Linked DNA regions of Homo sapiens. The protein of the gene in region 2 purifies or fractionates together with the protein of the main gene of each other region. This does not show direct contact. Each region holds a gene or a part of one and is shown on either strand. Other genes may lie near its edges. The genes, in order: ISY1, USB1, CDC40 and DHX35.

Region 1 (7,026 bases), on a different chromosome or scaffold from region 2:
TCTCAGGTATGAAAAAATTCGTATGTGAAATGTTAAGTTCCACCACCCAAATTCAACACTATTAATATTTTTATATATTTTTTCCAGAGATTTTTAATGCTTAATAATTTTATTTTTATTTTCTACATATAAAAGTAATATATTACCACTAAGTTCAGAAAAGTACAAAGAAGCAGAACAACACTCAGTCACAATCCCATTACATAAGTGCAGCCACTTGAATATGCTCTTTATCTTTTTTCTCCTTCCGTTGTTTTTGTATGAATGTCATAATTGAAACCATACTCACTGTATGTACAATTTTGGTTCTGGATTTTGTTTTTCTTTTCAAAATGGTAGCTTTCATTATATAAACAGTACATATTTTTGTGCAGAGAAAAAATATAAATATAAAAATTATAAGATATAAAAAATACATATTAGTATATACATTATAGAAATTCATTAATATTCTATGTGCTTTATTCTCTAAACTGTACAAGGAATACAGTTTCGTGTCAATAAATAATCATATGATAGATATGTATATTGTTTTATTTTATTCTAGTTTAGTTTTTTTTTTTTTTTTGAGACAGAGTCTCGCTTCATCACCCAGGCTGGAGTGCAGTGGTGCGATCTTGGCTCACTGCAACCTCTGCCTCCTGGGTTCAAGCAATTCTTGTGCCCCAGCCTCCAGAGCAGCTGAGATTATAGGTGTGCGCCACCACACCTGGCTAATTTTTATATTTTAGTAGAGTTGGGGTTTGACCATGTTGGCCAGGCTGGTCTCGAACTCCTGACCTCTGGTGATCTGTCCGCCTTGGTCTCCCAAACTGCTGGAATTACAGATGTGAGCCACTGCACCCAGCCTCTTAGTTTTTGTGACAAGATTTTACTCTGTCACCCCAGGCTGGAGTGCAGTGGCACGATCATGGCTCACTGCAGCCTTGACTCCAGGTGCAAGTAATCCTTTTACCTCAGCCTCCTGAGCAGCTGAGATGACAGGTGTGTGCCACCATGCTCAGCTAATTTTTGTTTTTGCGACGGAGTCTCGCTCTGTCACCCAGGCTGGAGTGCAGGAGTGTGATTTCGACTCACTGCAACCTCCCCCTCCTGGGTTCAAGCGATTCTCATGCCTCAGCCTCCAGAGTAGCTGGGATTACAGGTGCCCACCACCACGCCCAGCTAATTTTTGTATTTTTAGTAGAGACAGGGTTTCACCATGTTGGCCAGGCTGGTCTCGAACTCCCTACCTCAGGTGATCCACCTGCCTTGGCTCCCCAAAGTGCTGGGATTATAGGTGTGAGCTACCGTGCCTGGCCATGCCCAGCTAATTTTTAAATTTTTTGTAGAAATGGTGTCCCATTATGTTGCCCAGGCTGGTCTTGAGCTCCTGGAGTCAATCAGTCATCCTGCCTCAGCCTCCCAAAGTACTGGGATTACAGGCATGAGCCGCTGTGCTCAGCCAAATTGTATGATTTAAAAAAATGTTTTTTAACTCAAAGAGCATTGCAAAAATATACAGAGAACTTTTATATACCCTTTATACAGATTTACCAGTATTTAACATTTTGCTTGTATTTGCTTTATTTTCTTTGTGTACCTTGAGATTTATTTTTTGTGAACCACTTGAAAGGTAGGTTACAATACATCATGCTTCTTTACCCTTTAATATATGTGTATTTCCTAAGAAGAATATTCTCTTATGTAACCATGGTAGAGCTATCAAGTTTAAGAAATTTAACTTGGCTACAATAATTGAATCCATGTGGCATTTCATCAGTTTTCCCAATAATGTCCTTGGTAGCATTTCCCCTGCAGTACAGGACCTGATCTGGGGTCACATACTACATGTAGTTGTCAAATCGTCTTTTTTTTTTTTTTTTTCGAGACAGAGTCTCGCTCTGTCGTCCAGGCTGGAGTGCAGTGGCGTGCGATCTCAGCTCACCCTAACCTCCGCCTCCCAGGTTCAAGTGATTCTTGTGCTCCAGCCTCCCAAGTAGCTGGAATTACAGATGTGCACCACCGTACCCTGCTAATTTTTGTATTTTTAGTAGAGATGGGATTTTACCATGTTGGCCAGGCTGGTCTTGAACTCCTGACCTCAGGTGATCTTCCCGCCTTGGTCTCACAAAGTGCTGGGATTACAGATGTGAGCCACCGCACCCAGCAAATCATCAGTTTTAATAGATATAGTTGTATCTTCTGGATATATTTCATTTGTTTTCCACTAATTGTCATATAGGTTGTTTGTAATCTTTTTAAAGGTTTTGTCACTTAGCATCGTGTTTTTTATCTTTATTTATTTATTTATTTTTTAATTATTTTATTTTATTTTTTTGAGACGGAGTCTTGCTCTGTCACCCAGGCTGGAGTGCAGTGGTGTGATATCAGCTCACTGCAAGCTCCGCCTCCCAGGTTCATGCCGTTCTCCTGCCTTAGCCTCCTGAGTAGCTGGGACTACAGGCGCCCACCACCATGCCTAGCTAATTTTTTGTATTTATAGTAGAGACGGGGTTTCACCATGTTAGCCAGGATGGTCTCGGTCTCCTGACCTCGTGATCCGCCCACCTCGGCCTCCCAAAGTGCTGAGATTACAGGCGTGAGCCACTGCGCCCGGCCTAGTTTTATTTATTTTTTTTGAGACAGGGTCTTGCTCTGTCACCCAGGCTGGAATGCAGTGGCACGATAGGTGTGTGTCACCATGCCTGGCTGATTTTTGCATTTTTTTGTAGAGACAGGGTTTTGCCATGTTGCCCATGCTGGTCGTGAACTCCTGGCCTCAAGTGATCTTCCCACCTTGGTGTCCCAGAGTGCTGGGATTACAGGTGTGAGCCACCGTGCCCAGCCCATAAGTGTTTTTTATTTATTTATTTATTTATTTATTTATTTATTTATTTAATTTACTCCAGCCCTGGCTGGAGTACAGTGGCACGATCTTGGCTCGCTGCAATCTCCACCTCCCAGGTTCAAGCAATTCTTCCTGCCCCAGTCTCCTGAGTAGCTGGGATTACAGGCATGTCTCACCACACCCAGCTAATTTTTGTATATTTAGTAGAGACAGGGTTTTGCCATGTTGCCCAGGCTGGTCTTGAACTCCTAAGCTGAAGTGATCGCCTACCTTGGCCTCCCAAAGTGCTAGGATTACAGGTGTGAGCCACTGCATCCAGCTATTATCTTAAAATATATTTGCAAACATGGAAATAGTGGGTTTAAAGATCAGATCTGCCAGGCGCAGTGGCTCACGCCTGTAATCCCAGCACTTTGGGAGGCCGAGGTGGGTGGATCATGAGGTCAGGAGTTCAAGACCATCCTGACCAACATGGTGAAACCCCGTCTCTACTAAAAATACAAAAATTAGCCAGGCGTGGTGGCACGCACCTGTAATCCCAGCTACTCAGGAGGCTGAGGCAGGAGAATCACTTGAACCCAGGAGGTGGAGGTTGCAGTGAGATTGTGCTACTGCACTCCAGCCTGGGCAACAGAGCGAGACTCCACCTCAAATAAATAAATGGGCAACAGAGCGAGACTCCGCCTCAAATAAATAAATAAATAATAACTAACTAACTAACTAACAGATCCATTTTCTCTTTTTTTCTTCCCAATAAGAAAGTTGGCCCTAAAATGCTGGATCATGAAGGAAAAGAAGTCCCAGGAAACCGAGGTTACAAGTACTTTGGAGCAGCAAAAGATTTGCCTGGTGTTAGAGAGCTGTTTGAAAAAGAACGTAAGTAAGTTTGTGACAGTTTTAGCCTTTCATTGGTAATAATCATAAGAGTAGATATGCTATATGCTAACTGCTCTTACTTTTTTTTCTTAGTTGCATAACAGCCTTATAGTGTAGGAATTATTGTTCCCAGATTTTAACTGAGAATTCTTAAGAACTGGGATAGAATCATAGGCCCATGCCATACAATTGGGGCTGGAAAGTGTGCCCAGGATTGGCTGGTGCAGGATTCTGCCTTTGGCAGGTGCTAATCTGTCAGTCTGGACAAGGAGTTTCCCTATTTGAAGTTTCCCAGAACGATTGGGGCAGGCTCTGAAGTTCATTGAATCAGGTCATGTTTCAGTTACTTATTAGTTGAACAAATGATAACCAAAGAACAAATACAATCTTGGGCCAAACCCTAAATGTAAAAATGGAGAAAAGTGAGGCCCAGCACTGTGGCTCATGCCTGTAATCCCAGCACTTTGGGAGGCTGAGGTGGGCGGATCACCTGAGGTAGGGAGTTAGAGACCAGCTTGACCAACATGGAGAAACCCCGTCTCCACTAAACATACAAAATTAGCTGGGCATGGTGGTGCATGCCTGTACTCCCAGCTACTCAGGAGACTGAGACAGGAGAATTGCTTGAATCTGAGGGGTGGAGGTTGCGGTGAGCCGAGATCGTGCCATTGCACTCCAGCCTGGACAGCAAGAGCGAAACTCCATCTCAAAAAAAAAAAAGGAGAAAAGTGGAGCTACTTTTGTGTGAATCCAAATAGGGCACACCCACCTTTCCTCCTTCTTTCAGCCAAACCTCCTGAATATAATTTGAAACTGTTAGTCTGGAGTTTTAGTCGGTTTTGATTTTGTGTTTTAGAAAGGTAGTCAACACTTCATAGGAAAAAGTATGAGAGGCAGAGAAGAATGATGCCAGTATTTTCACCATTATTAGCATTTTGTTATATCTCCTTCTAGTTGGCTTTTCTATTTTAAAAAAAATATAGTTCTATTTTTATTAAATGCTGCTTATTTTAAAATTCATTATTCCACAGCTAGTTTTGCATAGGCCACTACCATCCCTTAAAAATAATTCAGAGTTTAAATATTGTGCCATTAATTATGAAGGAATATATTTTTTACTACAGAGGAGTTATAGCCAGGCGCAGTGGCTCATGCCTGTAATCCCAGCACTTTGGGAGCCTGAGGCGGGAGAATCACAAGGTCAGGAGTTCGAGACCAGCCTGGCCAACATGGTGAAACCCTGTCTCTACTAAAAATACAAAAAAAATTAGCTGGGCATATGGCAGGCACCTGTAATCCCAGCTACTCAGGAGGCTGAGGCAGGAGAATCACTTGAACCTGGGAGGCAGAGGTTGCAGTGAGCCGAGATCGTCCCACTGCGCTCCAGCCTGGGCAGCAGAGCAGGACTCCATCTCAAACAAAAAAAAGTTATAAAATACAGAAAATCAGAAAAAAACCACTCACATTTTCACACCTCATATGTGATGATTGTTAATACATTAGGGCATTGTTCCCTCCAGTTTCTTTCTTTCTTTCTTTCTTTTTTTTTTTTTGAGATGGAGTCTTGCTCTGTTGCGCAGGCTGGAGTGTAGTTGTGCAATCTCGGCTCACTGCAACCTCTGCCTCCCGGGTTCAAGTAATTCTCCTGCCTCAGCCTCCCAAGTAGCTGGGACTACAGGCGCATGCCACCATGCCCAGCTAATTTGTATCTTTTTTTTGTTTTTGAGATGGAGTCTCGCTCTGTCACCAAGGCTGGAGTACAGTGGCCCAATCTTGGCTCACTGCAAGCTCCACCTCCTGGGTTCACACCATTCTCCTGCCTCAGCCTCCTGAGTAGCTGGGACTACAGGCATCTGCCACCATGCCCAGCTAATTTTATTTTTTTTTTGTATTTTTAGTAGAGACGGGGTTTCACCGTGTTAGCCAGGATGGTCTCGATCTCCTGACCTCGTGATCCACCTGCCTCAGCTTCCCAAAGTGCTGGGATTACAGGCGTGAGCCACCGTGACCAGTACTAATTTGTATTTTTAGTAGAGACAGGGTTTCACTGTGTTGGTGCCAGGGTGGTCTCGAGCTCTTTTTTTTTTGAGATGGAGTTTTGCTCTGTTGCCCAGGCTGGAGTACAGTGACGCAATCTCGGCTTACTGCTGCAAGCTCTGCCTCCCAGGTTCACGCCATTCTCCTGCCTCAGGCTCCTGAGTAGCTGGTACTATAGGCGCCCGCCACCATGCCCGGCAAAGTTTTTGTGTTTTTTTAGTAGAGACGGGGTTTCACCATGTTAACCAGGATGGTCTCAATCTCCTGACCTTGTGATCCGCCCGCCTTGGTCTCCCAAAATGCTGGGATTACAGGCGTGAGCCACTGTGCCCAGTACTAATTTGTATTTTTAGTGGAGACAGGGTTTCCCTATGTTGGCCAGGGTGGTCTCGAGTTTTTTTTTTTTTTTTTTTTTTGACATGGAGTCTTGCTGTGTTGCCCAGGCTGGAGTGCAGTGATGCGATCTCGGCACACTGCTGTAAGCTCTGCCTCCCGGGTTTACGCCATTCTCCTGCCTCAGCCTCCCGAGTAGCTGGGACTATAGGTGACCGCCACCACGCCCGGCAAAGTTTTTGTATTTTTTTAGTAGAGACGGGGTTTCACCGTGTTAGCCAGGATGGTCTCTATCTCCTGACCTCGTGATCCGCCCGCCTCGGCCTCCCAAAGTGCTGGGATAACATCCCACTGCTCCCGGCCGGTCTCAAACGCTTGATGTCATGATCTGCCCACCTCGGCCTCCCAAAGCGCTAGGATTACAGGAGTGAGCCACCTCGCCTGGCTGTTCCTTCCAGTTTCTAAAGGGTTGTGTTGGGGTGGCTCCTATATTGTGATTATGCTCTATATGTTAGGTTTTTTGCATTTACATTTTTCTAAATATATTTTTGCTTATTCCAGTGATAGAGTTTTGGGTTTTTAAATTTATTTTTCCTTTTTTGTCATCTATTGAAAAGATTTTTGTTTTAGAAAGAAAATGCATAAGTGAATTTTACTGGTTATAATTCAAATAGCACAGATAGAGTTAAAGTCCTCTTACCTCTACACTCATCCCAGTGCCCCTCCTAGAGGTAACTGATAACCATTATTATCTGTTTGGTATGTTCCTTTCCGGCCTTAAAAATTTTTTTATTTTTTTAGGCCAGGTGCGGTGGCTCATGCCTGTAATCCCAGCACTTTGGGAGGCTGAGGCGGGCGGATCACAAGGTCAGGAGATCAAGACCATCCTGGCTAACATGGTGAAACCCCGTCTCTGCTAAAAAAAAATACAAAAAATTAGCTGGGCATGG
Region 2 (7,040 bases):
GAGAAGAACAAAGTTGGAGGACTGAAACTACCCAACTTCGAGACTTAACTATGTAAAGTTACAGCAATCAAAACAGTTCACCAATGGTATTGGTGAACAAATAGATGAATGGAACAGAATTGAGAACCCAGAAATAGACCCACATCAATACAGTCAACCGATCTTTGGCAAAGGAGCAAAAGCAATACAATGTGAAAAAGAGAGTCTTTTCAACCAATGGTGCTGGAATAACTGGATATCCATATATAAGAAAAGGAATCTAGACACAGACCTTCCACCTTTCACAAAAATTAACTCAAAATGGACACAGAACTAAATGTAAAATGCAAAACTGTAAGATTCCTGAAAGATAACATAGGAGAAAAATGTAGATGATCTTGGGTTTGGTGACAACTTTTTAGATATGACACCAAAGGCAAGATCCATGAAAGAAATAATTGATAAGCTGGACTTCATTAAACTTAAAAACTTCTGCTCTGTGAAGGACAACGTCAAGAGAATGAAAAGACAAGCGACTGGCTGGGAAAAAAATGTATTTGCAAAAGACGTATCTGATAAAGGACTATTATTTCAAATATAAAGAACTCTTAAAACTCAATATTTTAAGATCCAATATTAGACCCACATCATAATATTAAATAAACAAAAATGATTAAAATTTATTAATAAACAAAAATGATTAATATTAATAAACAAAAATGATTAAAAAGTGGGCAAAAGACCTTAACAGACACCTCACTGAGGAAGATACACAGATGGCAAAAAGCATTGAAAAGATGATCTGGATCATATGTCATCAGGGAAATGCAAATTAACAGACAACAGTGACATATTGCTACACACCTATTAGAATGGCTAAACTCCAGAACACTGTCAATACCAAATGCAACTCCTTTGGGCAAAAACCAAGGAATGTAATTGCTGGATTTTATGATAAGAGTATGTTTAGTTTTGTAAGAAGCCACCAAACTGTCTTATTTGAGATGGAGTCTCACTCTGTCACCCAGGCTGGAGTGCAGTGGAGCGATCTTGGCACACCACAGTCTCTACCTCCCAGGGTCAGTCAATCCGCCTACCTCAGCCTCTCAAGTAGTGGGAACCATAGGCGTGTGCCACCACACCTGGCTAATTTTTTTGTATTTTTGGTAGAAACAGGGTTTCTACCTGTTGCCGAGGCTGGTCTCAAACACCTGGGCTCAAGTGATCTGCCTGCCTCCGCTTCCCAAAGTGCTGGGACTATAGGTGTGAGCCACCTGGCCTAGCCAGTGCTACCCCCATTTTAGATTTGAAGAAACTGAAGCTCTGAGAAGTCTAGTATCTTATAAAGGGCACCCAGAGTAGTGGGCAGCGGAGTGAGGTCTGACTCTGAAGCCTGGGCATTTTTTGTCTTCCACCTGCTGATCAGAGCTAGGGTGGGATTTGAACCTTGCACACCCAGCGTACCCAGGGCCCTCTCAGAAATAAAGTGCCTGGCATGACCTTGACACCCTGCTCCAGATTCTCCTTTGGTCACCTCCTCGTGAACAGGGAGAATATTATACCCAGAGGTAATACACATTTTAGGCTACGAATTCAAAACCAAGATGACAGAAAAATCCCCAGTTCTTGAAACCTGCTCTTTCTCTGCTAAGTCAATGACTTTCCCACCACCAGTGTTAGAGGTTTCTGGTTTCTTCCTTCTAGTTGGGGCCAGATTCTGCCCTTCATGAGGCACCTACGGGTCTATGGGTCTTGGCAACTTGCCTTTCACACATCACTCACATGGTACATAGACGTGGGTGGCCCAGTTGCCTCGCTCGTGGGGGAAGGTGCGCACCCGTCCCCCGTGTTTTGTGCTGTCATCTTCAGGCCCCTCCTCGGTGCCCGGGAACATGTTCAGCACACTGTCAGGTACTGGAAATCTCTGCCTGGGAAGGGGGCTCTGGCCACTGCAAAAGAAAAAAAGAAAAATGAGTACATTTATCCTGTTAGCATTCTCTACCTTTGTATATACCACAAAAGTTGTAACCCCTTATATATGGTGGCTCTGAGTGTGTGTTTCCAGCCTGGTGCTGGAAGCAGCTTCTAGATAGCGAAATTGTTTCTCCAGTATTGTCTCATTGGGGTCTCCAACTCTGGGGCACAAGGTCCCCATGGGAAACAACAGGGCATGCAACAATGTGGTTCAGGGGTCACATTTCCAAGCTGGACAGGCTGCAGCTGGAGTAGCACTTTCTAGCTCTATGACCTTGGGCAAGTCATGTCCCCTTTCTGGGCCTCAAATGCCTCATCTGAAAGTATATGTCTACCTGATAGAGCAATTGTGGGATCAACTGAGCTACTGCTTGTAAAGCACTCAGCAAAGATAAGGCCTAGCATTTAAGAATCTAAGCCCCAGGAAGTAAGGCCGACGGTTTTGTTCACCACTGAATTACCAGACCCCAGCCTGGCAGGGAGTGGGTGCTCAGTGAATATTTACTGGATGAATGAAAAGGCTCTCCCTACGCTTTAGCAAGTATTACTATCGCAATTGTATTCAAATCAGGAAACGGACCTAGGATGGTACAGGGATGTGTGCCAGGCGATAGAGTGGGCCAGCGCGAGGCTGGACCCGAACCCAGGTCTGGCCTCCCAACTTGGCCCTAGCCAGGTGGGGCCACTCTGGAGCTTTGTCTGGGGTGGGGGGGAGGGGTATATCTTCTGGATCCTCCTTTCTTCCTGCGTCCCCTTTTCCTTCCCAGAGCCGCCCCGCATCCTCCCTCCCCACTCCACCCCCAGACATTCGGGTCCCGTCTGGCTCTAGGGTGAATGCGCGCGCCCTCCGGAGAGACTTCCTCACTCCTCACCGACGGTGGCTCCCATCCCCCGGCCTGGTCCGCATCCCGTCCTCGGACTCATCCTCGGAGCCGCTGCTGCTGTAGCCCACCAGGGGCGCCGCGCTCATGGGGCCTCATCCAAGACCACCAGAGCAGGTCCACCAGCAACCTCAACCGGCACCCGGAGTTCCGCTGTGCCGGAAGCGCCCTCCCAGGGGCGGGGCCTGGGCTGGCACCGCCTCGGGGCGGAGCCGGGAGGGGCGGAACCCGGCAGGACAGTGGTGAAGATTCAGCCCACCGACTCCAAGCTGTCTGCCGGCTGCGCACGCGGATCTGGTCACCTGCAGCCTCCCGGCACCCCGCTGGGACCTCCCCAGCCTTCGTGTACCCATTTCATATATCGCTCAGGGCCCTCACCTTTCTGCCCGCTGCTGTCTGCAGCCACCCGGGACCAGACATACCAGACACGACAGTCCCGGGTCAGCGCACTAGACCCAGCGGAGACCCCTGCCTGCCCCGAGCCCGGCCAGGATCAGAGGTCCTGGAGCCCCCTCCTCAAACCAGCCCAAAGTCCAAGCCCCTAAAAGCCAAGCTGAGCAGTTAGGGGCGGATCAATTGTGGCAGACCAGAGCCTCTAGGAGGCCCCTCCTCTCCTGCGCAGAGCCGGGCCGAGGGCGGTCACCCGGAGCCCCCTCCCCTAAGCCCGAGCGGGGTGGCCGGAAGCAGAGCGCCCTTCCTCGGTTAGTCGAGGCGCCCAGGCCTGGCGACTCGAAAACCGCCCGGAGCACCCGGCTTGTCCGACCTGGCCCGGCCACGGGGTCCCCGGCAGGGGGCGGCCTCGCTCCGCGCCGCCCGCTCCTCCCGCATTGGCCGCCGCCGCCCGGGATGCCGCTCCTCCCCCGGCCCCGCCTCCCTGGCCCCCGCGCCGCCCGCCCGTCCGCCCGTCTCCGCAAGGCCATCGGTCCGTCCGCCCGCCCTCCCGGCGCTCCTCGCCCCGGCCCCGCTACTCCGGCAGCGCGCGTCGCTTCCTCCGTTCCGGCCGCCGCTAGCCCGTCCCCCGCCCCCGGTCCGGCCGCAGCCGCTACGCGAGGCCGGGGATTGGCAGCGCGCGTAGGCCGCGCCGCCGCGGATGGAGCCGGAATAAAGGGGCGGCCGAGAGAGCAGCTGGTCGCCGCTCGCCCCGCGCCTGCCCTGCAGGCGGCCTGGAGCAGGTGAGCGGCGGGGCGCCCGGGGCCGCATCTGGGGGCCACCCCCGCGCCCGCCGCACCCCTTCCTCTGCCGGCCCGGCCGCCCCCCCGCGCCCCTCCGCCGCGACCTAGCGGCCTCTTGAGCTTCTGGGCGGCCCAGGCCGGGCCTCGAGGCGCAGCCGCTTCCTGGGCCCGGCCTGTAGCCCTGGGGCCTTTCTCCAGCCCGGCCGCCCTCGGGGCTCGCCCTCGGGTCGCAGCGGCCGGGCCATCCCGGACGAGGGCTGACAGGACGCAGCCCAGCTGGGCCTGCAGGCAGGGCCGGCGGGAGGTGATCGGCTTTCATTCGGTTTCTCAGGGAGGAAGAAGAGACGGGGTGGGGCGCAGGTGGGGGGCCTCCCCTGCCTCTCCTTGCCTCCTCTCTCCCCTTTGCGGAGTGATCACAGAGGCTTCCTGGCTGCACCTTGCTGCAGGAGGGCCAGGGTGGGCAGGGGGTGCTGCAGACCAAGCCAGGGGACACTGTCTGACAGCCATTCATGCCAGAAAAAGCAAACAAAACAGTGGGTTGGCACAGCGGACCTACAGGCGCTCAGAGAAGCCCACCTTCCCCCTCTCTGTCCCGAGAAGGCTTAGAGTGGTACCTGCTTGCTCAAGCAACCTGCTGCCTCCACCCAGAGCAGCCGCTCCTCTCCTCCCTCCCTTCCGGAAGATGCTGAGGATGACAGCTTTTAGCCTGACTCTTACATTTCTTTGGCAGAGCAGTTAGAGGCCAGACTGTCCTGTGAAGGCTTCTCCTTCCTTCTTCCTCTGCTCAGGAGAAAACTTACAAACTTTTAAATGTAAGAGGCAGATGAGCTGGGAACCTGGAAGTGGGTTGCATCTGACTCTGAAAGTTCCTCCCTCTCGCTGGCATTACCTCATGCTGCCACAAAGTGGTGAGTTAGAGATTTGCCTGGGCTGGGTGGGCTTTACCTTCCAACAATTACCCAGAACTTTATAGGCTTGGAGTAAGGGAATGGAGTTGTCTCTAGAGAGGTGATGAGAAATGCTCTGTGGTTAGCATGCTGCATCCTGCATTGCCAAGGCAGACCAGGGCAGTTTCTTACATTTTCCTGCAGGCCTTGACACTATGAGATTCAGAGGATTTAGGACTTTGTGTGTGTGTGTGTGTGTGTGTGTGTGTGTGTGAGTTCTGGGAGAGAACCAGAGTGAGGAAGTTCTGCTGTGTGGACATCAAGCCTGGGTGGTTCTGTGGCCCTCTCATCTAGCCCCCATCACCTATGGGCTCTGGTTCCTGTAGGGCCACCCATCCTGTCACGCGGAGAGAGAATGGGCCTGTGGTCAGGGATAGTTGAAGGGGTGTGGTCAGTCCCTCATAGGTGAGAGTTTTTGAAATGGTCCTTGGTTCCACGTAGTTGTCCTAAATATTGACTGTCAGAGGCCATTTGCCACTGGGCTCTCAGACCTGGGAGGTCTGGCCTCCTTAGCTCTAAGTGGTGTGGCCCGTATTAAGACTCAGGGTAGCAACAGGAGAGGAGCTGCGGGCCTTAAGGAGGATTCTGTATTGTAGGCAGATAACCCCGGACTCTCACCTGTGAGTCTCAGCTAAAGGGTTGGCAGGAAGCTGGAGGGGACTTGTGGAGGCTGGGATGTCCTGGCCCAGGGGCGGGGCACTGAGGTGGGTGGGGGTGGAGGCCGCTGCCATTTCCTCTGCCTGGAGGAGCTGAGCTGGCTGCAGACCTCTCTGATTGCCTAAGAAGGGAGGAGTCCTGCAGCCCTGAGCACCTCTGCCTTCCCCGATGTGTGGTTTGTGATGGTGTGGTGAGTGCGGGCAGGACAGGGAGAAGGCCCAGGAAACTGCTGCTTGTTCCTTCCTCGAGCTCATACTTTCTCTCTTCTCTACAGAACGGATCACTGGGGAAGGCAGAGTCTCCCCGGCACTGCTGGGACCCTCCCTTGAAGAGCCCCCATGTCCTGTAGGCAGAGCCTTGTAGTCTGTCCGCTTGGTTACTGACTCGGGCTGTCTGACCAGCCCCTCTTCTGTGCCTTGTCTGAGGTCCTTGTCCATCTCTGTGATTGGGCAGCTTCTCTCTCTGGATTGGGTCACGTGAAGCGGGAAACTGAAGCCATTACTCTCCAAACCCTGTTTCATCTTCCCAAGCATGTCGGAAAGCTGGCAACAGCCGCCACAGACGCAGCCGCAGCAGCCACAGCCACCGCAGCCTCAGCACCATGCAGAGCCACCGCCAGCCCTGGCAGAGCACACGCTGCCTCCGGGCACGGCGGAGAACCCCCTGGGCTGTGCCGTCTATGGCATCCTCCTGCAGCCAGACCCCGGCCTGCAGCCCCCACAACACGCACCCCTGCAGGCAGCAGGAGAGCCAGGCCCCAAATGTGGCGTGTGTGGTCACGACCTGGCGCACCTGTCCAGTCCGCATGAGCACCAGTGTCTGGCGGGCCATGACCGCTCATTCCAGTGCACACAGTGTCTCAAGATCTTCCACCAGGCCACTGACCTGCTGGAGCACCAGTGCGTGCAGGCTGAGCAGAAGCCCTTCGTCTGTGGGGTCTGCAAGATGGGCTTCTCACTACTCACCTCACTGGCACAGCACCACAGCTCCCACAGTGGCCTGGTGAAGTGTTCCATCTGTGAAAAGACCTACAAGCCAGCTGAGGCAGCGGAGCCAGCCACCACAGCCGCCCCGTCGCTTCCCGCAGCACCCGCGCCTTCCACTGTCACCCCTGCTGAACAGGCCGACAAGCCCTACAGCTGCCCCATCTGCCAAAAGCCCTTCAAGCACCTGTCGGAGCTCTCTCGGCATGAGCGGATCCACACCGGTGAGAAGCCCTACAAGTGCACGCTGTGTGACAAAAGCTTCAGCCAGTCGTCGCACCTGGTGCACCACAAGCGCACGCACAGCTCCGAGCGGCCCTACAAGTGCGCAGTCTGCGAGAAGACCTTCAAGCACCGCTCTCACCTGGTGCGCCACATGTACGCGCACTCGGGCGAGCACCACCTGTTCCGCTGCAACGTGTGCGAGTTGCATTTCAAGGAGTCGTC
Region 3 (7,026 bases), on a different chromosome or scaffold from region 2:
TTTGATTCCAGTTTTCACTATTAAAAATGTGATGTATGTTATGCTACAAAGTGCATTTTAAAACATGGTAGTGAATATTTTTGTACATAAAACTTTACATGTTCTTATATTATTTTATACTATTTTCTTAAATGAGTTCCCAAACGTAGGTAAAAGAATATGTGTTTTAAAAGCTTTTGGTATATATTATCAAATTGCTTTCCAAAAGAATTCTCTCAACCTACTCTACCACCACAGTGTATAAAAGTCCTATTTCTCTTTTTTTTTTTTTTTTTTTTTGAGACAGGATCTCGCTCTGTCACTCAGGCCGTGCAGTTGTGGGATCTCTGCTCACTGCAACCTCTACCTCTGGGGTTCAGGCAATTCTCATGCCTCAGCCTCCTGAGTAGCTGGAATTACAGGCATGAACGACCACACATAGCTAATGTTTTTTTTTGTATTTTTCGTAGAGATGGGGTTTTACCATATTGGCCAGACTTGTCTCAAAACTCCTGGCCTCAAGTAATCTGCCTTCCTTGGCCTCCCAAAGTGCTGGGATTACAGGCCTGAGCCACGATGCCCGGCCCTATTTCTCTTCATCAAAGATCCATATGATTGTTTTTCCTTTGTTTACTTGATAATCAAAGTATTATATTTCTTTATTGCAACTTGATTTTTCCGGACTACTAGTGAGGTCGAAGGTTTTTTCATATATTTATGACCATTCTTTTGCAAATTGTTTATAGTCTCTTTTCATTTGCCTAATGGAATTAGTTTTAATAATTATTATTAGTTTAATAATCTTAAGGGTATAATAATAAAATCAATATTATGGCCATTTCAAATAAGACTGCCGAAGGGAAGAAAGTAGACATTAATTCCATTAAAAAGATAAAAGGGAAAACAAGCTTCAGGAAGATAGATAAGAATATTTAAGAAATGTAGAAATATTCACTTATTTGAGACACAAGATAGTGAGAAAACAAATTGGACTGAAATTTAGTAGTGTTAGAATTAGATCTTGTTCTATCACTGGCTGATTTGTAGTAAGACATAAGGCCAAATATTTAACTCTTATTTGTAAAAGGAAAATAATACTGTTTTCTAATCACCTGGGGTGGAAGGCAGTAGTGGGGATGGTGGTATGGCAGTAAAGATTTTTACCACAGAGGATGTGGAGCAAGAGGAAAGCATAACTTATTTTTCTGAGTAACAAGACAGTGGCCAGATGAGTTGGGGAATGGTGCTTACACAGAGACAAGGACCAGGGATACCTCTTCCCTCTCTGTCTACTCCTTCACCCTTCCAGACGCGTCATGAAATGCTATTTATGTAGACGTTAAGTCTCCTTTCAAAGTAGAAATTTACATTCTAGCTAGATACGTTTTTTATTATTGAAATGGAAACTTTTAACATGGTATGAGCTTATAAAAGTCTCATTTTTTGGAAAAAGTTATGTGCAGAACACTTCTGTACATCAAAGAGATTAAAGACAAAATAACTCATGGGATTTGAACCTGTGATTTCAGAGATTCTACTCCAAAGGCTGATTTTCTGCCACCAAGCTCTCTCCTCTGGTTAAGAACATATTTTAATGCTGAAAAAAACTATATGCAAATCAGCTAATAGCCAGGTGGTTGGTTCTGTTATAGCATATCATGAGGGTGAGTTCAGCACTTACATCCTTAGCTTGTTTGAAAAGCATGCTTCATGATGAATCTTTTTCTGTTCCCCAAAAGAAGTTCCCTATATTCTGTTTTTTTGTGTGTGTGTGTGAGATGGAGTCTCGCTCTGTCGCCCAGGCTGGAGTGCAGTGGCGCGATCTCAGCTCACTGCAAGCTACACCTCCCCGGTTCACACCATTCTCCTGCCTCAGCCTCCCGAGTAGCTGGGACTACTTTGGATGAAAAATGAAAATAATAAGTCTATCCTCTAGGATGTGCCCTTTAGAAAAAATGGGCTTAGTACTTTTTTATGTATTCTATTATCGTACACATGAGTTGTAGGCCATAAAGTGATCAGTGATTTAGCACTCTTGTGAATATACCAGACTAATGTTACCAAACATTTACTGTGCTAGCACACCCATTTGAGAAAAAAACTGATTTGAGCTAACTTAGGTAGACTTTCTTTCCTTAAATTCCCATGGACCACTGAAGACCACATTTATATGTAGCTACATACTTTATAATTAGTTTAAAAAGCACATTCGTATGCTGGTAGATATCCTTCCTTCTCTTAAGGAAATATAAAGAATGATTGATGAAATAGAAATATATTAAGATTGGGAAGGAAGACTGTCCTTACTGCAAATGGTATTTTCAAAATAATAGCTAGATTTTATGTAATCTTCTTACCCTTTTTTATTTAATAATTTACATAATTTGATAAACTTAGCCCTGCAATATCTATTACCAAGAAGAAAAGGAAAATGGTTTCTAGATTTCCAAGTGCATCATGTACATGTATTTTCAAGCTCTTAGAATATTTAAAACTAAAGTTTGATGTGTTGGCCAGAGAGGCTCTTAGTAATGTAATGTCAGTATGCAAAATTCATCCTATAAGAAACATATTATGCTGGAGTCTAGCCTGAGCTTTGGGTTCTAAATAGAAAAATATAGCTTTGGGTTCTAAATAGAAATATAGCTCAGGGGCCGGGAGTGGTGGCTCACACCTGTAATGCCAGCACTTTGGGAGGCCAAGGCGGTGGATCATTTAAGGTCAGGAGTTCAAGATCAGCTTGGCCAACATGGTGAAACCCCATCTCTCCAAAAAAATACAAAAGTTAGCTAGGGGTAATGACGCATGCCTGTAATCCCAGCTACTCTGGAGGCTGAGGCAGGAGAATTGCTTGAGCCTGGAAGGCGGAGGTTGCAGTGAGCCGAGATTACACCACTGCACTCCAGCCTGGGTGACAGGGTGAGACCCTATCTCAAAAAAAAAAAAAAAAAAAAAAAGGAAGCAATATAGCTCAGGGCAGAATGATTGGTCCTGATTGGTCCTGAGTTAGAGATCATTTTTGACATCTGGGAAAGAAAATGTGAAATGTGTATATTTGTATTATAATAATAAAATGAATTTAAACAGCAAAATGGAGTTAATAATTTTCACTTTTTTGCTTTCAGGTTATGCATTAGACCCTTCATTAGATAATCATCAAGTGTCTGCTAAATATATTGGTTCTGTAGAAGAAGCTGAAAAAAATCAAGGTAATTTATTTGAAACATTTGATATCATATATACCTACACATCTATAATTAGTGTCTTGCAGAGTGACTTTAATTAGACAGTAAAAAATAGTATTTAGCGCTTTTTTTTTTAAAGTTGAAACAATGGAGCGATACAGTTTAGAGCAATATAGTTCAGAAATGTTACAGTTTAGAGCTTGCTTTTGCCGCTTACTAGTTGTGGAATCTTGTAGGGAAAATAATGATACATATCTCTTTGAGTTACTTTGAGTACTTGGCACCATGCCAACCCTGTAGAAATCACTCAATAAATTACAACTAATGTATAGATAATTTTGGCAATTGATTTCTCAACATTAATGTCAAGCTTCATTTTAACAGAGTAGAAATACTTTATTTGGTAAGTCTGTGAAGATTGTCTTTGAAGAGTTGCTTTGAAGGTTGAGTTTGAATATGTGTTGTATGTATGCTTGTATTCATATTCATTTTGTACTTACAATAAGACAAAACATCATACGCTAAACGCTAACTTGTCACAAGCCTCATCAGTCCATTAGAATATTATCCATAAAATGCAATTTAAAAAGTAATTTGCTGGTTGGTTGCATGGGACATTTGTGCTTAGTAGCTATAGATCCTATGTGATCTGGCTGGTCTCTGTATATGAGCTAGATTATTGTTAAAATAGAATTTTAACAGGCTTTTGCTATAAAACATAGCCTGAATTAATATAGGTAGACATTTCTTCTTTAAGCTAGACCTCTGCAAGTCCCATCTAAAGGTAGCTAGATTCTTAGTTAACTTGTGACTATGATTCCACAAACCTTTCTTTTTCCAAGTTAATGACTATACACAGTATGCCACCTCCTACTAATCAAATCAAAATCTCAACCAGAAACACCCTCCTTCTCCTTTTCTTTTACTGTTAACGTTAATGATATTAGAGGTCAAGATGAGACTGAAATCACTTGGAAGGAATACCATTTCTGGTGAAACCTTGTTTGATTTACATTTTTGCATTACAAGTGAAGTGAAGATAAGTTATTAAGTACTTACAGTAATTTAGTTTAATTTAGTTTTAAAATGATAAATTACAGTTTATTCTTGCTTCCAAATGTCACTTTATTATTACTTAGCAATAATGAGTTTCTGAGTTTTTTCCAGAAAGTCGTACAAATCCACTGACACAGCTTTTTGATTCAATAAAAGGCTTGTGCGCCATTGTAGGAGTACATATTTGGGTCTCTTCTTTAAGTATACAGTATTAGAATTTGCAGAATATTGAATTAGTTTTAAGTGTCTTTGCCCAGAAGGTTGAATCCCTTTTTCTGTAGCATGAGTCAGCGTATATGGTAGATTCATGTAGATTGTTTTTTAATAACTCTGGGGTCACTTGAACAATCATCTTTCTTTAACCATATAAAATAAAATTAAACATATGTTCATATTTCTTTAGAAAATGTACATCTTTGTAATCTCTCAGTTTTTTTTTTAATTTTTTTTTTGTTAACGTAGGTTTAACTGTATTTGAAACTGGTCAGAAGAAAACAGAAAAGAGGAAAAAGTTTAAAGAAAATGATGCATCCAATATTGATGGTTTTTTGGGACCATGGGCAAAATATGTGGATGAAAAAGATGTAGCCAAACCTTCAGAAGTAAGCTTTGATGTTTTTAATTGTCAATTCAGGTATACGCTGTATCTCTATGAAGGATATCTACATTAATAAACTTGAGATTTCTTTAGAGAACCAAATGACTCATCAAAATTTTTCTGCCTTTAGTTGATTGAAAATATACAATAAAATTTATTTGTTTTTCTTTGGGATATTTTTATTTACCTTTTCTGCTGATTTGTTTTCTCTCATGCTTTTTTATTAAAATACAATATTGAACAATTTTCATAAAGATTTCCTTGATATTGCTATTAAGCTGCCATGGTAGCTACTCTTCTGATACTAGACATTCAGATAGTAACTACAAAATCAGCCTTCTGTGACACTAGAATTGATTATAAATTTTATTGATTTATGAATTTATTTAAAATTTTCAACAAATTTTATCTCTATATATATCTTAAAAACTACTATAAAGTTTGTAAAGTAAATGCTCTGCCGTTCCCTTCCTCACCTCCTAATCTCACTGTCTCCATGAGCCAGAGAGTGTTCTAGGTCCCAGGCATACAGCAGTGGACAAGATCAAGAAAATCATGACCTCATGAAGCTTATATTCTAGCTGTTACTTACATCCAGTAAATCCATGTTTATAGTAATAGAAATAAACAGGTGATATCTAAGATGAATAAACTTATTCTACTATTTTTTATTTTAGATTTTATCTGTTGACTTGTTATTATAGATAGAGATTTACTACTACCCCATCTTCTGTCCCCAGCTCCTCCCAAAAAAATTGTGTCACAAATGTATAGCTATCACTTATATCCTTAGGAGTATGTAAAAACAATTAACTGAAAAACAACATTATGTGCTAAAATTCAGTTTCCATTCTGAAACTAGATTTTCTGATTGCCTTGTCTTTTTACTTGTATAACTAGTATAACATGTTAAAATTTATTTCTAGGTGTCACAGAAGGATAAGTTTTGAAAACTGATTTTATATAGTTGAAAAGTATTATCTAGTATCCATTATGTATTTAGTACCATTTCATAATTTGTGGAAGAGGTAATCAGTCTCTGCTTATAGAAGACTTGAGCTTGGCCGGGCCTGTAAGCCCAGCACTTTGGGAGGCCGAGGCGGGCGCATTGCCAGAGCTCAGGAGTTCGAGACCAGCCTGGGCAACACAGTAAAACCCTGTCTCTACTAAAACAGAAAAAATTAGCCAGGCGTGGTAGTGTGCACCGAGTAGTCCCAGCTACTCGGGAGGCTGAGGCAGGAGAATTGCTTGAACTAGGAAGAGGGAGGTTGCAGTGAGCAGAGATTCGCGCCACTGCACTCCAGCCTGGGCGACAGTGCGAGACTCATCTCAGAAAAAAAAAAAAAAAAAAAAAGTGTTGAGCTTGTTATCCTGGGAACATACTCGGACCAGATATGTAGAAGTCATTATAAAGAATTTATAACCAACTTTAGGTATAATGAGGTTCTAGAACATTCATTTTAAATTTCACTCCTTAATTTTCTTAGGAAGAGCAAAAAGAATTGGATGAAATCACAGCAAAGAGGCAGAAAAAAGGAAAACAGGAAGAAGAGAAACCTGGGGAGGAGAAGACAATCTTACATGGTAACATATTTTTTGTACATCTTCATTTTTATGAAAAACCTTCATATTTACTCTGTTCGCTGTTCATACAATATCAATTACCCTTACTATCAGCTGTAATAAAATCATTATGTTAAGTATAATTGTGTTGGACAATTTGTATCCCAAGGAAATTACAGCAGACTTCTGTATACTGATAAAGGAGAAAAAATAGCATGATTAATGATAGCCACAGATAATTTTTTTCCAAGTGTGAATGAATTTTATTAAATGGTAGATAAAAAGAAACTTGAATAGTCCACAATCTATTCTTTCGTAAGATAAAGTTGACTCTTTTGGTGTATTAATAGTGCCCCAGTCATTTTAAATGTTTTTAATGAAGCCAAATACTCAGGTATCCTCACAGTTCATAATCGTTATTCAGCTATATTCAGAATAAACTTGGATTTTCGTGTGAAAAGATGGAGCTTAAGGCTCTCATACTTATTTTGACTTGTAGAAGGAAATGCATATTCACCAAAACAAATCGTAAGTATTCTAGAATGTACCTGTTAATAATTAGTTATATTTAGGAAAATACATAGTGATTATCTAAAACTGTAAAGAATAGCTTAGCATTTACAGTGTTGCTTATTCTAATGTTAT
Region 4 (7,026 bases), on a different chromosome or scaffold from region 2:
CCACCACCAGACTGTCAGTCACTGTGGCCACAGACCATGGTTACTAGCCCCAGATCTCCAAGCTCTAGCACCGTGGCCAGCATACAGCAGGTGCTCTGCAAACATCTGCTAAAAGAAAGATCAACATCAAAGACTGAACAAGGACAATAATAACCAGAAAGGAAAAGAAGAGACAAATGGCAGAGCTAAAACCCCTGGACCTTCTTTAGGGGCAGCCACACCAGAAGAAACAAAACAAAATAAAAAACCCTGGGCCTGGTTAAGTGAATGCAGATGGATACTGGATAAAGAAGAGAATTAACAATGACTTGGAAATTGAGTCTGGACAACTGGGGAAAATGTCAGCAGCATTCCCCACAGAAGAGAAGTGCAGAGAAAGAGCAGCTCTGGGTCCATCACTGTCTATAGGTAAGGCTGTCTTCAAGCTGGATAGAAAGCTCCAGAAAGGCTGAGACAGTATTAAAATTGCCTTCTGTTCCCTCAGAGCCTAGCATGATGCACAGCACAGAGGAGGAGCTCACCAACTATTTGTTTTCTATGAATGAGTCTCCGGACAGACCTTCCATTTTCACTTGGCAAAGATGCTCTGAACCAGAAGTAAAAGGGGAACCCAATGTGAGGCTCCGCAAGACTCAGGGATCTTGGAATACAAAAACAGCACATTAAGTCAAGAAAGAAAGGCAAGAAAGACAGGCTCCAGGACACACAGCCCACACCCTAGGGACAAATGGCTACACAGGCCTGTGCCCAGATGTTAGGTTAGAACAGGATAGCAAATAAGCAGTCACTCACAGGCCAGCTTTGGCCAATGGGGACTAGTAACAAAGAAACACCATATTTAGAGTGAGGAAAGCAGTGGGGATCTGATTACACAGGGCCTTGTGAGGAAGGCCTGTATTTTATGTTAAGTTCTACCATTAGGAGTAAACATTTGCTACACTCTGTTGCCCAGGCTGACTATAAGAAAGTCAAAAACCCTTAGGGAAAGCCACACTAACCTGTATAAAGGCGATAACATTTTCCCGAGCGACTACGACCACCACGTCCTGCTCGCTGATTAGCTGATGCCTGGGAGACTGGCACCACCACCAAGCATTCAATAGCTGTCCTGGGATTGTAGGCTCGGAGTTTCACAAAGCCACAGTCGATCACATACACAATGCCGCTGATTGTGATAGAGGTTTCTGCCACATTGGTGGCCACTATCACCTACGTTCCCCACAGAAAGAAGAATAAAACTCATTTTATTCTTTTTGCTTTTAACAAACTCGTAAAAATCCTAAAAGATTTAACATTTCCAACATTGCAGAATCTGTGAGAGGCAGTTTAATATACTAGAAAGACTGTGAGTTTCCAAGTCAGGGGGTGCCCTGGGTTTGAATTCTCCCTAATCATGTGACCCTGGACAAGTTACTCAACCTCCTGAACCTGTTTCCTCATCTACATAATAAGATTTACCACCTCCCCTAGGGCTACTGAAGGGACTATATACAATTAATATATAAAGTGATCAGAGCCTAGCATTTGTTAGTTTTTCCCTTTGGCATAACCAAAGTAAATCACCCTCCATCTTGCGCAGGTATAGTCATTTATTCATTCATATCATGATTACTTTCTGAGGGTGTGCACTTTGCCAAGCACTGTTCAAGGTGCTGGGATGTAGGATAAACAAGACAGACAAGGCCCCTGCTCTGCCAGAGTTTACATTCTAGTTTGAGTGTTTAGGGTGAAGACATGCTGAACATAAACAAGAAGATAATTTCAGAGAACAACAAATACTATAAAGAAAATATTAACACAATGAGGCAATATGATATGATGTAGTATATAACATGTATATTATATATTATTGTAATAATAGGGCATGCTACTTTACTTTTGTTGGCCAGGCAGAGCCTCTGTGAAAGATTTTGAGCAGAGACCTGAGTAACAAGCAGCAGCCAACCCTATAGAGATCCAAGAATAAGAAACAGTTCAAAGGAAGGAGAAACAGCCAGTGCAGCCAAAATACAAAGTACAAGATGAGGTTGCAGAGGGAGGCAGATATGCAATCATATGTGGTCTCTGGGCCACCATGAGGTATTTGAATTTTATTCCCAGTACATTGGGAGCTGCCCCTGAAGGGTTTAAGTAGCAGGGGACACATATATATAGCAGTTAGAACTTTTTTCAGGCACTTTACATTTTATAAATCATTTTATAAAAATTATTTTATAAATGATCATTTTATAAAATAATCTTTCTAATATTTTTATGTAGTTGGGATTAAGATGTTATGCTATAAAACCACCTATCTGAAAGTTATTATTATTTACGTTTTACAGCTGCAAAAACTCAGATTCGAGGTTAAGTCAGTTGTCCCAAGGCACATAGTAGCTCAGGGGCAGAATCCAGGTCTCCTGATTGGCTGGCTGCAATTAATGTTTGACAGGGCAGACTCATGTTGCTCCATCCCAATGGTCAAGGGGCTGAGCACCCTCTTCCAGGTGGTCTGAAATTGGGAGTGGATCCTCAGACCATCCCTCACCTGCTCTATTCTCTGCCATCTGTTGATAAATAGCTACTACAGTAAAAGCTGTCCTCGGGCTGGTTCTGTGCAGTCCTCATCTAATGAAAGGAAAAGGCAGAGTCAGGCCCAGGTGGACTGGCTGCCTGCCAGCTCCTTCAAACCAATGCTTTCCACCACACCCTTCCTCACTCTCACTTCAAGGCTAAACATTTTTAAGCCACACCTTGAATTAATTGATTTAAACTTGGCCCTTTAAAATAGGCAAGCTGATACTTAAAACAAATTATTTAGAAACCATGTGTACCAATTTTTCTATTGCTCCTGACTGACCTCAATCCCCCTAAACAATCCCTTAAGCCAAAGTAAGCATGTGTCGTGGGAAATATTAGGAAGGCAGAAGAGAAGAAAAGAGAAGTCACCTGATCTGATAACTACTGTCAAAGTGATCCTTCAGTGGGACAGGTTTAGAATCTTCACAACAGGCCGGGCACGGTGGCTGACGCCTGTAATCCCAGCACTTTGGGAGGCCAAGGTGGGCGGATCACAAGGTCAGGAGATCGAGACCATCCTGGCTAACTTAGTGAAACCCCGTCTCTACTAAAAATACAAAAAAAAATTAGCCGGGTGTGGTGGCGGGCGCCTGTAGTCCCAGCTACTCAGGAGGCTGAGGCAGGAGAATGGCGTGAACCCGGGAGGCAGAGCTTGCAGTGAGCTGAGATCGCGCCACTGCACTCCAGCCTGGGCAACAGAGCGAGACTCCATCTCAAAAAAAAAAGAAATCTTCACAATGTATTATTTATTGTGTGCTTTTAGATCTACTACACAGAAATATGGACCTAGAAGTCTGCCTTGTGTTTAGCAAGTTTCAAAACAAGTAAAGGAGCATCATTATGATTATAGACGGCTGCCAACACCCTTGGTCATCAGGATAGTCTCACCTTTCTGACACTGCGTGACACCCTTTCAAACACTTTCATTTGCTCAAAGGAAGGCAGTCCTGCATACATGGGGAGAACTCGGAGGTGTCTCTTCATCCCAGTGCGAGCTAGTGCTCGAGCCTGCTCGATGAGCATCGACACAACAGTTTCTACCTCTTCCTAAAGACGTTGAACCAGGAACCAAAGAAACCGAGATCAATTTAAAGCATGCTATTTTATCATACTGAAAGAAAATAAAAGTTGGGATCTGGACTTTAATTTTGGTCAGATTCAAGAATTTCAGTGCCGTCATGTTCCACTCTGGGATGGTATTTAATTAAATGCTAATACACAATGATGACAATGGGTGAAATTTTGCAACTACACTATTAGTTACTAAAAACTCGGTATGATCTGCAATGAATGGAAGAGTTCCCAATAAATAAAAACGATGACTATTTTACTCAGCATACATATACGGTGTCAAACAAGCATCTCATGCATATAGACAAGTTGCAGCATATAAAATCACTGTAAGCTTTCTCCAAAAAAGATTACTGAACCATGGAAAGTGTTTGGCAGTGGAAAAGATTACAGTTGGAGGGCAGGTCTGAATAGTGCTGGCCACCGTCAGCGAGCACTTGGGTCTGTTCAGTTGTTTTACCAGTAATATGGCCACTTATCACCTCCAGGATGAGCTGTAAAGGTGTCACTGGAAAAAGAGGTACACAGCAGCAACATGTGTGCAGGACATGGACCTAATGTAGTATCCAATTCTGGCAAACAAAATAGCCCTCACTCAACTACCTAGTTTATTTTGGAATCAGCTAATACATTTAAAAAAACATTTAACCCTCTGCAGACAGAACAGGCAGGGGCTAACGAGTCCCTGACAATCTAGATGGTAGATGAATGACATCAAATCAATTTTCTACACAATTATGGAACCACAAAATACAACAAAACATGAAATACATGACTGAGTAAAGTAACAAGGCTCTGTATTACTTTTGGTGCTGTCTTAACATGTCTATTCATCAGAGAAGTACAGTGGCATTACCTGGCCAGTAAGAAATGCTAAAACGTCTCCGTCTCCCTCTGTCTGGTGAATTTTCACCACAGTTTCGACAGTTGATTTGATATAATCTGGAACAGGACTGAAAAGACAAATGGGATGAATTCATCACTAGAATATGCTCATTAATTACAGATCAATTACCCTAATAATCTGGCAGCAAAGCTCATCAAAGTGAGTTTGGGCCTGCCCAGTAGGTAATTAGTACAGGATAAACAAAATAAATATTCATTTTTTTCAAATCTAATATTCAAGAATAATCCATAATTATATGTCAACTATGATTTTTAGCTTTATTTGGAAAGAAATAACATGATATACCCATACAAATAGATGTGCTATCTTTAGTATGCAAAGACATCAGACCAGTGAAAATCGGAAGCTGTGGTCCCAGTGCTGAAGCCCACGCTCTTCCCAGCCCATTTTCCCTCCTAACCAATAGCAGCATCTATGGGTCGGCTGGATGGCCCTGATGGATGAGCTCTCCAACAAAACGATTCAGAAATCAAGTCCACGACTCTGGATTTATCAGCCACTGGAACAGGCTCCTGGTCTTTTTTTGTCCAGTGACTAGTACAGGAATTAGGATGGCCCCTTCCTTGTCCAAGTAGGCTACTCCTAAAAATGCCAACTGGGCCTTCTCGCTAGGGATGTAGAGAACTGAGAGCCAAATGATTCAAATCACCAATACTGCCCCTGCTGACAGGCAGCCTTGTAAACCCCAGTTCTGAAAACTATCAAGCTTCCCTCCCCAAAACCTTTCACCACTTTTGCTCTCTCTGGCTGAGCTACTGGCCACAGACTTACGGAAACTTGCATGTCAGTGTGAACAGTTTAAACTAAATTCAGCAGTGATCCGGAGCAGGGTAAGAACATTCTAGACCAATGACTAGGGACACAAAACATGCTCCTCCCCATCCTTTAGAGTTGTGAGCAAATGCAGTTCTGACATTCTACATCAGAGGCTGAGTTTTCTAAACACCATCATCCAGAATTCAAGCATCATCAAACCTTTGTAGATAAAAGATATCCACCGGAAATGTTCTCCCTTCCACTGTAAGGATCACACATGTATCCCTTGCTGGATCACTGGTTTCATTTTGATTAAAGAAATCCCGGAATTTCTAAAAAGAAAAAAATTAATTCTTCATTTCTCTTAGAAAAAAAGGTTCGTAGCGATTCATGGAAAGAAAAAATAATATAAAACTTGCCAAAGACAGGTGAGTAGCAAGATTATATATGTGCAATACAGATTATGGGTTGCAAAATACATTTTTTAAATTCACATTTTTCTAACTGTAATTGTGGGGAATCACATTTCAATGACAGTGTCTTTACTAAAGTTTTAATAAAAATAATAAAGGTTAGATTTCAAAACTGCATTCAGCATAGCATCTGAGTTAACATGTAGCTTTAGTATTATTTATATTATTCCTATCCTCTGTATTTCATTTAAGCAAAAATTAGGTCAAAGGTGTGACTCAAGTTCAGTACAGGTTAGATGAGGTTGGTGGGTAACTCTATCTGGAAAACACAGATATGATCATTTGATAGGAAACTTTTCCTTCTGTGAACAGTAGGTGTGTTTCCGGCCCCATTGTTACTGGTTTTAGGCCACTTGATGGCAGGGATAGTGTCTTCTCCATCTTTACACGCCCTACAGTAGTGAGTGCGAGGCTTTGTATGGGGTAGGCCATCAATCATGTACTTCCCCAACACTCGTGCAGTACCCTGTTGGGAGAAGTGTCTCTTGGCAGTTTCTGCCAAACAGGTGTCCACATCCTATTTAATGGTACTTGACCACCACTTGCAGCCCACAAGGAGACCTGTCTTGAGGGCTCCAGCCAATGATGGGGGAAGGAAACGCCACCAAAGATCCTCTCTTGGGGAATGTGACCCTAAGGTACAAAGAGAAGCTGAGACTGAGAAGAGCTAAGTGACCATGCAGGCAGGCAAGTGAGCACCAGATGGGAAGCAGCTGGTGCCCACTGCAGAGGGGGCATGGATATCCCGTCGGGTGGAGTGCTCCATTATTTGAATCTGGGTGCCCTTTCCATTCCCCACCTCTACTCATTTCCCTGAGGCCTGGCTACATAACTACAAAGCTTGTCTTTATTTCCCTATGTACCTTTACAAAACATGCCCATCCTGCTCCAGGAAACCCAGGAGCCCAGGAGCTGTGCTAACGAATGGCATCAAACGCTAAGTGAAGGGGCTCTGAGGGGTACTTTTAAAAGAGTAAACTGGATTTAACCACAAAATACAGGGATGTTATATATTAACCTCAAAATTGAGAAGAATAAGCACAGACATCAAAGTGCCTCATGTCAACAAAACTATGTTTTGCTATGCAGAATTCCACACAGTACTCCTGTTCACTTTCTTTTGGGTAAATTCCCTTCAAGTTGCTTCAGCCTTCCTGCATCCCTATGACATGCACAGCACAGGTACACTAGAAGTGACATACAAACAAGTGGGAACAGACACCCCATGCCCCAAAAGAGTAAACAGTTCACAGAAGGCAG

Evidence for each region.
Region 1: the proteins of USB1 (region 2) and ISY1 purify together in Homo sapiens (affinity purification with mass spectrometry, with the first as the bait; 3 studies listed by BioGRID). This does not show direct contact.
Region 3: the proteins of USB1 (region 2) and CDC40 purify together in Homo sapiens (affinity purification with mass spectrometry; 3 studies listed by BioGRID and IntAct, with this or other methods). This does not show direct contact.
Region 4: the proteins of USB1 (region 2) and DHX35 purify together in Homo sapiens (affinity purification with mass spectrometry; 3 studies listed by BioGRID and IntAct, with this or other methods). This does not show direct contact.

The regions. Positions count from the first base shown.
Region 1 is NC_000003.12:129,137,048-129,144,073, reverse strand, and holds part of ISY1 (pre-mRNA-splicing factor ISY1 homolog), read left to right. Parts: intron 1-3,588; coding exon 3,589-3,706; intron 3,707-6,877; coding exon of another isoform or gene 6,878-6,943; intron 6,944-7,026. Other genes in the region: ISY1-RAB43 protein, read left to right, coding at 3,589-3,706. UniProt on the Homo sapiens protein: Component of the spliceosome C complex required for the selective processing of microRNAs during embryonic stem cell differentiation. Required for the biogenesis of all miRNAs from the pri-miR-17-92 primary transcript except miR-92a.
Region 2 is NC_000016.10:57,997,367-58,004,406, reverse strand, and holds the start of USB1 (U6 snRNA phosphodiesterase 1), read right to left. Parts: upstream 3,001-7,040; 5' UTR 2,924-3,000; coding exon 2,826-2,923; intron 1,929-2,825; coding exon 1,762-1,928; intron 1-1,761. Other genes in the region: ZNF319 (zinc finger protein 319), read left to right, coding at 6,142-7,040. UniProt on the Homo sapiens protein: 3'-5' RNA exonuclease that trims the 3' end of oligo(U) and oligo(A) tracts of the pre-U6 small nuclear RNA (snRNA) molecule, leading to the formation of a mature U6 snRNA 3' end-terminated with a 2',3'-cyclic phosphate.
Region 3 is NC_000006.12:110,204,402-110,211,427, forward strand, and holds part of CDC40 (pre-mRNA-processing factor 17), read left to right. Parts: intron 1-3,104; coding exon 3,105-3,188; intron 3,189-4,682; coding exon 4,683-4,822; intron 4,823-6,305; coding exon 6,306-6,402; intron 6,403-7,026. UniProt on the Homo sapiens protein: Required for pre-mRNA splicing as component of the activated spliceosome. Plays an important role in embryonic brain development; this function does not require proline isomerization.
Region 4 is NC_000020.11:39,000,329-39,007,354, reverse strand, and holds part of DHX35 (probable ATP-dependent RNA helicase DHX35), read right to left. Parts: intron 5,626-7,026; coding exon 5,513-5,625; intron 4,584-5,512; coding exon 4,487-4,583; intron 3,607-4,486; coding exon 3,448-3,606; intron 1,210-3,447; coding exon 999-1,209; intron 1-998. UniProt on the Homo sapiens protein: May be involved in pre-mRNA splicing.